Regions from separate parts of the Homo sapiens genome. Here region 2 is linked to region 1. A link means that fine-mapping ties the variant in region 1 to the expression of a gene that starts in the linked region. Tissue or cell type: whole blood. Region 1 holds a variant in brackets; the other region holds the start of a gene. All regions are shown on one strand. Distances are from middle to middle.

Region 1 (6,363 bases):
CTTATAAGAATTTTCAGCCAGTCATATGGTTTCCAGCCCCATCCTGTGTTTTGTCTTCACTGTCCCTACAATACCTAAATCTTTCCAGCATGAGTCAACTTGCTGCTGCTTTTTTTGTTAAATTGTGGTAAAATATAATAACAAAATTTACGGCTACAACCATTTTAAAGTGTACAGTTCCATGGTATTAAGTACATTAGTGTGCAATAATCACCACTATTCATCTCCAGAACTTTTTCATCATCTCCAGCTGAGACTCAGCACCCATTAAGCAGTAACTCCCCATTTCCCCCTCCCTAGCTCTTGGCAACCATTATTCTACTTTCTGTCTTTATCAGCTTGCTTCCTGATGGCTTCTCCCTGTCAGGTTTAGGTTTCAACTTTCTTGGTCTTGATAGGTTATTCTTTTCCTTTTCTAGCTTCCAAAATGATGTTGATGACTCTCATTTGCTGTTGTGTCTTTCCCAATTCTCCTCATCCTTATGGGCTTTATACTTCTAAAAACTCCTATAACTTTTTAAAGCGAGGTCTCAGGAAGGGTCAGTCATGCTTTACATCCACCTTTCCCCTCCCAGCCCTCATTCCTTTGTTATTGTTTTTAAATTTAGGTTTATTTTATTAAGAATTTATTGGGAATTTACAGGTATGCCAAACAAAGGCAATTTTAACAGCCATGTTAGCTATAAAATTAAGTGTGATAAATGGACTTGTCACTGGCTTCTATTGTGTTTGTAGGGGTTTGATTCTGCAGATCTGTGGCAATCTCTAGCCCCCTCTTTCTCTCCCTAGCATACCTCATGTGGTGCCAGCTGTCCTAAGCCATATTCTGTGCTTCTGCTGCAGCACTTTTCATAGTGATAACCTGACCCATCTGTGGAGAATGATTTTGAGAGAGAAACTTATAGCCAGACACATTAAAAGTCTGTTATTCAAGTTACAATTGAGCTGTTTCCTTTCTGTGCAACTTCTCTGAGTGCCCTCGGTAGAGTTAATTACTCCTTCTGTGTCTTGACACTTGTGAATAATTCTATTTTATTCTGTCTCCGTTACATCTGTCTCTGTACGCTAGATATCTGTATTACAAGATCTGCCTCTTTCTTCCCTAAACTGTTTTCAAGGTTTGAAAAATACATATTCTGATACAGTTCTTGGCCCATGATAGATAATAAATAATTATTTACTAAATAAATAATCCATCCAAATTGATTGAACACCCTATTTTCTGGCAAGCGTATTGTCATTGTACCCTTTATCACTAATGTCCACTGAAAGCTGTGCCAGAAACTGTATTTGCTTTTGCTTGTTACTTGGAGTCAATAATGTGTAGTGATTAGGCGTGTGGCCAGAATGTCTTGGTTCAAAGAAACAAGCAAGTTTCTTTATCTTCTGTTTCTTTGCCTGTGAAATAGAGACAATAATAGCTAGCATGGAATGTGGTGAACATTAAATTAATACATCTAAAGTGCTAGCTCAATACCCTGCACATTGTCTTTATAGTGAATCTGTTTTTCATCTTTATGGGATACCTGCTATAATAACATTAGTACCTGTGAATAAAAATCAATGTAAAATGAAAAATCTAGTTAGTATTTAAAAGATTTAGCCCTTTGAAGCTCTTTGAACATGTTCTGAAATTATCTTCGTGGACAGTGTGCCATTTAGATAATAAACTGGGAGAAGTAGTATCTTTCAGTGTTACATACCTACTAAAATACTGTATTCTTTAAATATACTATAAGGTATCCAACTCTTTTAAACATATAGAGATACTTTGAATGGCAGTGCCAGTACTTGTGCTTTTTTTCTCCCTGAGGAGGGTTTTATGCAGCCCATCAGTAAATTTGATATTTGGCATCATTTGTCTTCTCATTTGAGAACCTGCAGGATTTAATTCTCCCCTCAGAGACTGTGTGCTAAGGGAAGGGAAACCTCCATCATTCATTAAGCAGTCAATGAATACTTGCTTATGTACTAGATGTTTTGGACACAAGGGAGAATAAGACACAGTTGTTTTCCTAAAGGGACCATCATCTCTTCATCATTTCAGTAGTAATAAAATCAAATGTTCCGGCTGAATGTGTGCACACTCTTTGACCCAGAATTCCATTGATAATGTTTTATAAATGGAATAAAAATGTACAGAAGTGTGTGTAGAAAGTGTTCATCAAACTGTTAATTATAAAAGCAATAAAAATATCAGTTTTAGTATATTCATTATATTTCCCACAGTTTCAATTAGAAACGTGATATTACTTAATTAAAATTTTGTTTTAAAAAAACTCTGAACTGGTGGATTTACATGGAGATGAATAGAGGATTAGGTCAGTCGTTGAGTTCTATGATCCATTACAAAGGAATGGTAAACTGCTCATATCCGTGTTAGGGCCCCCATTTCTTACTATATATACGACTGGCTAGTTGGTTATTGAAAATTCTGTAAATCTTGTTTCTTTTCTTCCATCTATAAAATGGGCACAGTGTTAGTAGTTATGAAGTTTGTTTTGAGGATTAAATGAACAATGTATGTAACCTAAAAACAAAAAATACCTCAGTAAATATTGGCTGCTCTTATTGTTCCTGTTTTTCTCTATACTCTTTATCTGTTTAATGAGTTTTCTCTGCAGCTTTTGTTCAGTCAGTCTCAACCAGGGATGACAGTGTTATATTTAATCTGACAGCTCCCATTGCTTTGTAACAGAGGTTTCTGAAGCCTTTGCCAGACTCCACAGAGCTGTCACCTGTTACCTGTGTCTGCCAATTTTGAAGGACGAGAAATAGCAGTACATGTGTCTTAGGTTTGCCTTCCTTGCTGTAAACCTTTTATCTCTTTATACACACCCTCCCTCCCTGTTCTCTTTTGGGTTTCATGTACTTTTTGATCTTGCACCTTATTTTAATAGGAGTCTGTTAGCTCATCTCTTTTTGGCGGGGGAGGGGAATATTTTGACTGTTACTGTTATTTCATAGCATAAATTACTCTTTATAACAGGGTAGTAATTCAGAGCTAGCCTTAGGACCTTTTTAGCTCTGCTTCTTCTAGGCTTCTCATAAAACACAAATATAGCTAGTTTGTAAGACTTATTTGTGCAAGCCTCATTTAAGAAAGAAGACCTGGATCTTGTATGAACTTTTTCCTTTTATTCCCTTGAGTAGAAAGCTCACACTACATTTAGTATAAGAATCAAATGCAGAAGAACTTTTTTCTAAGGGATTGTGGTATCTTTATAAGGTGAGTGGATTGTGACCAGAAAAGAATTTTTTTTGTTGAGTTGCATACACTTAAATTCATGGTGTTTAGGTATATGTTCTGAGGGCATGCAGTAAATAACAACTTGTATATTATAATTGATGGTTAAGAAATAGCCCTTGGCACATATGCAAAAATGATTTTACTTTATAACACATCCCGGGCATTACCTAGAAATGAAGTTATAGACACTATAAAAAGTTTTCACTTTCCTTGATGGCTTTTTCTGTACTGATGGGTCTAGAGTATTTATGAATTATCATAAATCAGAACGTTATGTTAAAAAGAATACAAACAGTTGAAATCACTTGCTTTGGATTTAGTATTTTCTTGTTATTTTAAATTCAGGAATCATGCCATATGGTATTCAGTTAACTTCATTTCAGTTAACTTTATTTTGAAGGGCAAAAGGAAGATGTCTTAATGACATCATTCAGCTAGGAATCAGAAGATAAGTTCCTTGGGTAAGTTGCTCAACTCTCAAGGCCTCAGCCACTTGTAAGGTGTAATGTAGCTCTAATGCATGAGCATGAACCTTGAAATTCTGTGACTTCTCCTCCCGCCCCCAAATCTCTGGCAAAGTTTGG[A/G]GTTTGTTTTTTTTTTTTGACCTTTTAATACATTGGATGTACATTAACAACAATATACCTTTCCAAATTCTTCTTTCTTTTTTCCTAAATTTTAATCTGAAAAGATTTGCTTTTTTAAACTCTCTTTTTTTTTAGGTTGGCAGTCAACAATCACCTTTTTAAAAACTATGCTTGATTTTGTTCATATATATATATTTTATTCATTAAAACATAGTTTCAACCCCATATGGTAACTGGCTCCTGAGAATAGGGAAACTAGTCCCCAAGCTTCAGCCTCCCCACAAACCTTGTATCAACATTTTTACTGATGAGTAATAAAATTAACAGATTTGAGCTGTAACATTCTGAACACTGGAAAAAGCATTACTGAACTGTAAAATAGACCTGCAGAGAAATCTGGCAGAGGAGGAGGAGTGTGCGTTAGCCTGTGACAATGAGGCACTGACTTACTATGCACTATTTTAACAGAGAATTGAATAGTTTTGCTATTTAGATATTTTACTGAGTTATTTTTTTAAACAAAAGAGGAATATATATGGTTTTCTGATAATAATTAAAAATTTTTTGACCTAAAAATGACCCTTGGGGGTGGGGCTCCTCAAGTGTAAAGCTCCTGCTGGGAAGAAAATTGTTGGGAATACATAGGTTGGTTTTAGGCATGGTGGAATCATTTGTTACCTCAATGAAAGCTACTCCTTGGATAGAGTTGTTTTCCTGTGATATCACTTCTCCTTGACAGTGTTCCTTTGAAATAAATCTAAATCTGCCTAGATATTTCTCACTTTCTAAATTAAGAAAATAATTATCTATAATTTATAAAAATAAAATTCGAAGTCTTCCCAGGATAAATCCATTGGTTAAAAGCAAACAATACTTTTTGAGTTTCTTTGGAGAGATGGAAAATTGCTTTTTTTTTTCTGTGTGGGTGAGGCAGGTGAGAATAGATTTCGCCCCTGCATGATGTCAATCAGAATTTTTGGTTAGTAAAAACCAAATCAAATATGTTTTAAAAGGAAATTGGGTAGAGCTCAGTGGCTTATCAAATTGTTGTGAGGGTTGGAGAACCAGATTCAGGGCTAAGCAACCAGAAACAATGCTCCAAATCACATTGCATAATTCCCATGAGGATGCCAGTACCATCTAGAGACAGACGGATGGATGCCACAACCTGTCCCAGCAACACTGCTGGCTCTGGATGACTCTAAATGCTGCCACCTCTGCCCCAGACTTGACCTTGCTGAAACTGCTCCACCATTAGTGTGAGAATGAGCTCCTTCTGCTCTCTGCTTCTGCTCACTAATTCGCTACTCTGGGATGCACATGTGTGTTTGGCAAAACATGTATCCTAGATGTATGGGACATGTGGGAAAGTGTTTAACCTTCTGCAATTATAAGACGGGAGGATGGCCAGATGCAGTGGCTCATGCCTTTAATCCCAGCACTTTAGGAGGCTGAGGTGGGTGGATCACCTGAGGTCAGGAGTTCTAGACCAGCCTGGCCAACATGGCGAAACCCCATCTCTACTAAAAATACAACACTTAGCCAAGCGTGTTGGTGTGTGCCTGTAATCCCAGCTACCTAGGAGGCTGAGGCAGGAGAATCATTTGAACCTGGGAGGCGGAGGTTGCAGTGAGCTAAATCACACCACTGCACTCCAGCCTGGGCAACAGAGTGGGACTGTGTCTCAAAAAAAAAAAAAGATGGGTGGAGTTCTCAAGAACTCCAAGCTGTAGAACCAGTGTTTTACCTTCTGAAATCATATGGCAGGAGAAGTTCAAGCAGACAAAAAGAATAATAGATGTTCACTGCACCTGATGTTTCAGATAAAATGTGAAGCCCTCAATATGTGCCACCATGCTAAATGTTATACAAGAATTATCTGTGTCATCCTCACAACAAACTTGTTAGTTTCATTTTAGAGATTAAAAGATAGACCAAGAGCAGGTAACCTGCCCAAGATTGTACAGTTAGTGATAGCAGTGTTGGGATATAAATTCAGAGCTATGACTCCAAAGCCAGTGCTAACTACTTAATTAAACTGACTTTTAATGTCTTTTCTGTCCTGATGCATTTAGCTCAAAATTCTGTAAATGAATCTGTTAGATTGAACCTACTATGTTTATTAAGATTTTGTGTATGGCATGTTTATGTGTTTAGGTAGTTTAAGGAAAGCTGAAAGTTTCTGGCTTTAATTTTTTCTATTTTCAGCTGATGATTAAATAATTTCTTATTCTTTTTCTCACTTTGTGACTATTTTTATAATTCACTTTGCCTCAGACTACAACCTGATAAAATGCTTTGTTTCTGAATATCAGTGCTTAGAAATGAGTTACTGAGTGTGAGAGACAGGCTGACATAAAAGGAGAGGGGATATAGAGTGACCGAGACTGAGGGAGGAAGGGAAAAACATCCCTCGCGCTCTCTTGCTGTCTCTCTCTCTCACACACATACACATACTCACACCCACTCCTCGAGAGGGAGAAACAAAGACAAATACATGTGGAAGAGAGGGTATGCACACACATTACC
Region 2 (5,667 bases), 73 kb after region 1:
GGCCAACATGGTTAAACCCTGTCTCTACTAAAAATACAAAAATTAGCCAGCTGTGGTGGTGCATGCCTGTAGTCCCAGCTATTTGGGAGGCTGAGGCAGGAGAATTGCTTGAACCCGGGAGGCGGAGGTTGCAGTGAGTTGAGATCATACCACTGCACTCCAGCCCGAGCGACAGAGTGAAACTCTGTTTCAACAACAACAACAACAACAAAAAAGTATAAACAGCTAAAAGAGACAGTTTTTGGTAAACCAGCACATTGATCACGCTCTGAATGGCCTTCAATGAACTGATTTAAAGAGCCTGTGAAACCCACCCAAGACTACAAAGCTAGTACGTAAAATGGTTGAAATTCAAACTCATATAGTCTGGGTCTAGAAGCTGAGTGTTTAGCCTCTAGGTGTAGAGGTGTCATCAAAGGAGGGGGAAGTAGGAAAGAAGGAAGGGTCAAAAGATGCAATGGAGAAAGGACACATTTCCAAGGGTCCCATCATAGAGTCTCTTCCTGGCTGCCTCTAGCCTCAGTTCCACAAGGTGGCAGGGCCTGCCTCCTTCTCCCCATCCAAATGCCTCTGGCTACATTCAAAGCCCAGCAGGGAGCAGTCATTGGTTTCCCCATCACACACAGTCTCAGGCTTGCCTACCAGAGGACATAATAAATATCTCCAGGTATGTAATTTTGCCCACAATAAAAACAACCTTTTTCAATATTGTGCAGGCATCTTAGTTTTTTATTGTGAATCTTCTCATTCCAGAATGCGATTTGGGATCTGCCTAGGAAAGTACATTTCCTGAAAGAAGACCAAATTTTCCTACAAAGAAGAGAAAACTCTTGGGAGATTTAAAATAACAATTTGTCCAGCCTGAACTCCCCTTTTCATGTTGGACCTGAGGAATACTGTAAACCAGGGTCAGCAAACTTTTTCTGTAAAGAATTAGATAATACATGTTTTAGGTTTTGTGGGCCCATTCAACCTGTCATGACTACTCAACTCTGCCACATAACTCTGCTATCGTATTGTGACAGAGTAAATATGTATGGGTATGCCCATGGATTCCAATGAAGCTTTATGGACACTGAAATATTAATTTCACAGGATTTTCATGTGTCAGGAAATTTTTGATTTCTTTCAACCACTTAAAAATGTAAAAACTATTCTTAGCTCTCAGGCCATACAAAAAACAACTGGCAGGCTGGGTTTGACTCCTCACAGCTTGCCAACCCCTGGTGGAAATCAACCCACTTAGAGGAAATCTGAAGGGTAGAAACAACTAAAAAATTGAAAATTCCTGTTAATGTTAGCAATGTCAAAAATCCAGGAGACCCCAGCTACTCAGGAGACCAAGGCAGGAAGATTGCTTGAGCCCAGGAGTTCCAGGCCAGCCTGGGCAACATAGAAGACCCCATCTCTAAAAAAAACAAAACAGAAAAAGAAAAATCCAGGAGCTTGTTTTGTTTTGTTTTTGTTTTGAGACAGAGTCTCGCTCTGTTGCCCAGGCTGGAGTGCAGCGGCGTGATCTCGGCTCACTGAAACCTCTGCCTCCCGGGTTCAAGCAATTATCCTGCCTCAGCCTCCTGAGTAGCTGGGATTACGGGCATGCACACCACGCCCGGCTAATTTTTGTATTTTCAGTAGAGACAGGGTTTCACCATGTTGGCCAGGCTGGTCTCCAACTCCTGACCTCAGGTGATCCGCCCACCTCGGCCTCCCAAAGTGCTGGGATTACAGGGGTGAGCCACCGCGCCCTGCCGAGGAGCTTAAGCGATCAGTTAGTCAAAGGGAGAAAAGAGGGTATCAGTAGATGACAGAAAAATTTTTTAGAGAACAAATTTTTAGACATCCGTCAACTTAGAGAAAGTAGAAAACTGTCTATAATAAACTGAAATATTTGGGACTGATCTTGATGTCTGCCAAGGTTTTGGCAGACATCAAGATCAGTCCCAAATATTTCAGTTTATTATAAACAAAGACTAATAAGTCGTCTCTACTATTGGAGGAAAAAAAAAAAAAAGACCGAAATGCAAAAATTCCTGAAAATGAGTAAATAGGGCAAAGATAAAATACTATAAATGTCTCTCTCAGTTCACAAGACCTTATCCTGGGCAGTCAACGTCCAGTTAGAAATAACGTCTGAAAATTCAGTAAGAGAAAAGGAAGTCTTCTTCTGTAATACTCAGTAAATAATGTTTAAAATTAACATAGCAATAATATTATCTGGGAATATGATAGTAAATAGCCCCTCCAAAAAACTGAAAAAGTTGAAAGCAGTTTTCCTGGAGACAGGAAGTGGTGAGGCAGATAAATTATGTTTTTCCTTATTGGTATATAACACTTTAAACTGTGTACATGTGTGACTTTAATAGAAGTGTTTAAAGATTAAATTTAAGAAAATAAAAAGTGTGAGCAAGAACTCCATTTCTATGGCAACCCGCGCGGCAGCCGCCTCTTTGTTCTGGAGCGGCGGCCACGCCCCCTCCAGTGTGAAAGGCTGCGTTTCCGGCCCGTGGGGCTCCAATCAAAATGGGACGCCTGCTGGCGGTAACGACAGGCCGGGGCCCCGCCCCCCGAAGTAGGGCGTGTGGCGTCACTTCCGGCTTCCTTCAGTCCGCTGGTCCCGAGCACGAGCTGTGAGGGGATTCACTTGTGTGCGGAACTCCTCGGAACCATGGTGAGCCTGACTCCCCTGCCTCTTGCCCTACCCCTGCTCCGCCGTGCTCTTGCCACCCCACTGCTTCCTCTGTCCTGCTAGGGTCGTAGGCTCCGTTTCTGTCTCCCCGGCCCTCCGCACATGGTGCGAGCCATGCGCGGGGCGTGCGGCCTGCGCCAGGCCAGCCGGTGGAGCTCACCACGAGGGGGAGGGGTGGACCGCAAAGCCAGCGTCTCCTTGTGCCTAGGTCTTTGCATAGTCCCGGCAGCCCAGGTCCGCGCCTCACCCGGAGCGAAGAAATTTCTAGTGTGGGACCCGCTCCGCCCTCCTTCTAGGGGCGGAGCCTGGAGCGACGGGGTCTGAGCCATCAGAGGGTGGAGGGGCCGCAGCCTTCCGAGGGTGGAAGATGGAGGCCGCGTTCCCTCGCCCGCCCGGCAGGCGTCACCTTGATGGCCTGCAACCCCTCCCTGCCTCATTCTTAGTTCAAGATCGTCTTTAGTCTCGCTGTACGTAACTGTCAATCTCGCTGGTGTATAATTTATACTCCCGGGGGCCTTGTAAATCCGAAAAGCCATGTCGCTCTCCTACAAGTCCCTCTCTCCCACTTAAATGCTTTCTCCGATGATGGAAGCTTCATTTGATTGAAAACATTGTTGTAAATGAGTTTTCTCTTAGATGTCCACTTGTAAGACTAGTGGAAGGCACCTCAGTGTATGTGTTAGAGTATTGGTACTTAAACGGAATGCCTCTTGGTTTTCCTTTTCAGGCGTCCCTTTCCCTTGCACCTGTTAACATCTTTAAGGCAGGAGCTGATGAAGAGAGAGCAGAGACAGCTCGTCTGGTAAGCCTTGTTCTAAGCATTGTTTTAAAGATAAAACTGGAGGCCAGGCGCGGTGGCTTACTCCTGTAATCCCAGTACTTTGGGAGGCCGAGGTAGGCGGATGAACTGAGGTCAGGAGTTCGAGACCAGCCTGGCCAACATGGTAAAACCCCGTTTCTACTAGAAATACAAAAATTAGCCGGGCGTGGTGATGGGCACCTGTAATCCCAGCTACTCGGGAGGCTGAGGCAGGAGGATCGCTTGAACCCAGGAGGCGGAGGTTGCAGTGAGCTGAGATCGCGCCATTGCACTCCAGCCTGGGCGACAGAGCGACACTCTGCCTCAAAAAAAAAAAAAAGTAAATAAAGATAAAACTGTACTTGAAGACTGTAAAGTTGATTCTGATAATCTCCTTGGTTTTTACTCCAGACTTCTTTTATTGGTGCCATCGCCATTGGAGACTTGGTAAAGAGCACCTTGGGACCCAAAGGCATGGTAAGAAAAATAGAAAAGTTTTATATTTTAATATTGTTTTAGAGCGCTTGGTGGAAATATAATAACAAGCGTATTAAAATGCTTTTTAATCTTTAAAACGTTTAATTATAAAAGACAAGTATGTTCTCCTTAGTAAAAATCAGAGTCCCCAGAATCACCATCCCCAATCCCATGCCCCTCCCCAATGACAAGTACTGTTATCATTTGCACGTACATCTTCTAATATTCTGTTTATGTAGAAGTATGTGTACTTCATTATGTATTTTATACTCATGTAACATACTGTTTTATAAAACAGATACTATTTATCAATACTTTTTTGTAGCTTGCTCTTTTAAATTCCTTTCAGTGTAAGTAGATAACACTGCCCCTTTAACTGTCAAATATTATCCTGTACCTTAATTATTTTATAATTTAATTATGGCTGTATTGATAGTTTCTTTCCATTGTTTTTGCAGTTACGGTGTTGAAACAAAAACTAGTGTCTACCTGTGCTTCTAGTGTTTCTAGGGGTAGATACATGGTTTGGTTACGTGGTGTATGTATTGAAAACATTTGATGAATGGATACCACAAAATAGCTATCCAGAGTGTTTATACACTAGCACTGTGTGAGAATACTGATTGATCCATGCATTCTTCAAGATGTGCTTATGTCTTAACTTGAACCAATTATGTTCCCTTTAGGACAAAATTCTTCTAAGCAGTGGACGAGATGCCTCTCTTATGGTAACCAATGATGGTGCCACTATTCTAAAAAACATTGGTGTTGACAATCCAGCAGCTAAAGTTTTAGTTGGTAAGTCTGAATATACTTTTTCACCAACCTAATAATACTGTTTGTTAACATTTTTGAAATAACTTTATAAATAGGCTGTGTTGACCAATCGTACTGTCAATTGATGTCCACTAGTTGTTAATTATCGTTGTTAAAATACAAGCTTCAGGAGTGCCCGTATGTTGGTGGTAAAACTGTTGCATTTCAGACCTCAGAGTTCCAAATAATTTGTTGAATGAGGAACCCTGGTAAGTTTAGATTGGTAGTGAATATTTTTGGAGAATTTAGTAAGCAAAGAAGCAATTTTGAGTTAATAACTAATTTCTTTTTCTAGATATGTCAAGGGTTCAAGATGATGAAGTTGGTGATGGCACTACCTCTGTTACCGTTTTAGCAGCAGAATTATTAAGGGTAAGAGCAACTAAGCAACTCTTTTTTCCTACTGTGTTTTTGAGTATCAGAGGTAATCTAGTCCTTACTTCCTCTGTCTTTACTATTGAGGAGTGCTTAATAATTTTCTATTTATAACTTTTGTTTTATAACTTTATTAATAGGAAGCAGAATCTTTAATTGCAAAAAAGATTCATCCACAGACCATCATAGCGGGTTGGAGAGAAGCCACGAAGGCTGCAAGAGAGGCGCTGTTGAGTTCTGCAGTTGATCATGGGTTTGTATAGCAAAGTACTACTGTTCTAAACATTTAGTGTTCTTTCATAACATGCTTAATGCAAGAAATCTATAGGACACTGAAAAGCATACACAAAGATCATCTTGCTGCCTCACCCCACTCCAACAGTCAAACCTACATCAGCCTCCAGAGATAGCCACTAAAGTTAAGTTTGGGTTTTTAGTCTTTTTGTATATATCATCAAAATATACAAATAAAGCAAATAGTATAATACTGTATAGAGAATTTGTTAGCCTCTTT

What was found. PIP is the estimated chance that this variant, and not a neighbour inherited with it, causes the effect.
Region 2: CCT2 starts here. The variant in region 1 is fine-mapped to the expression of CCT2 in whole blood (INTERVAL, PIP above 0.99).

What each region holds. Positions count from the first base shown.
Region 1 is chr12:69,509,312-69,515,674 of GRCh38, forward strand. All of the region lies in intron 1 of FRS2 (fibroblast growth factor receptor substrate 2), which reads left to right. It overlaps SNORA113 (small nucleolar RNA, H/ACA box 113), which reads left to right and starts at 6,129; the gene lies at 6,129-6,282. The variant A/G (reference allele first, on the strand shown) is at 3,835.
Region 2 is chr12:69,582,857-69,588,523 of GRCh38, forward strand. It overlaps CCT2 (chaperonin containing TCP1 subunit 2), which reads left to right and starts at 2,603. Exons shown (of 16, transcript NM_006431.3): 1 at 2,603-2,668; 2 at 3,414-3,488; 3 at 3,897-3,962; 4 at 4,649-4,760; 5 at 5,074-5,150; 6 at 5,294-5,406. The coding sequence starts at 2,666. MIR3913-1 (microRNA 3913-1) reads right to left here and starts at 1,967; the gene lies at 1,866-1,967. It overlaps MIR3913-2 (microRNA 3913-2), which reads left to right and starts at 1,867; the gene lies at 1,867-1,966. RefSeq lists an enhancer at 2,634-2,973.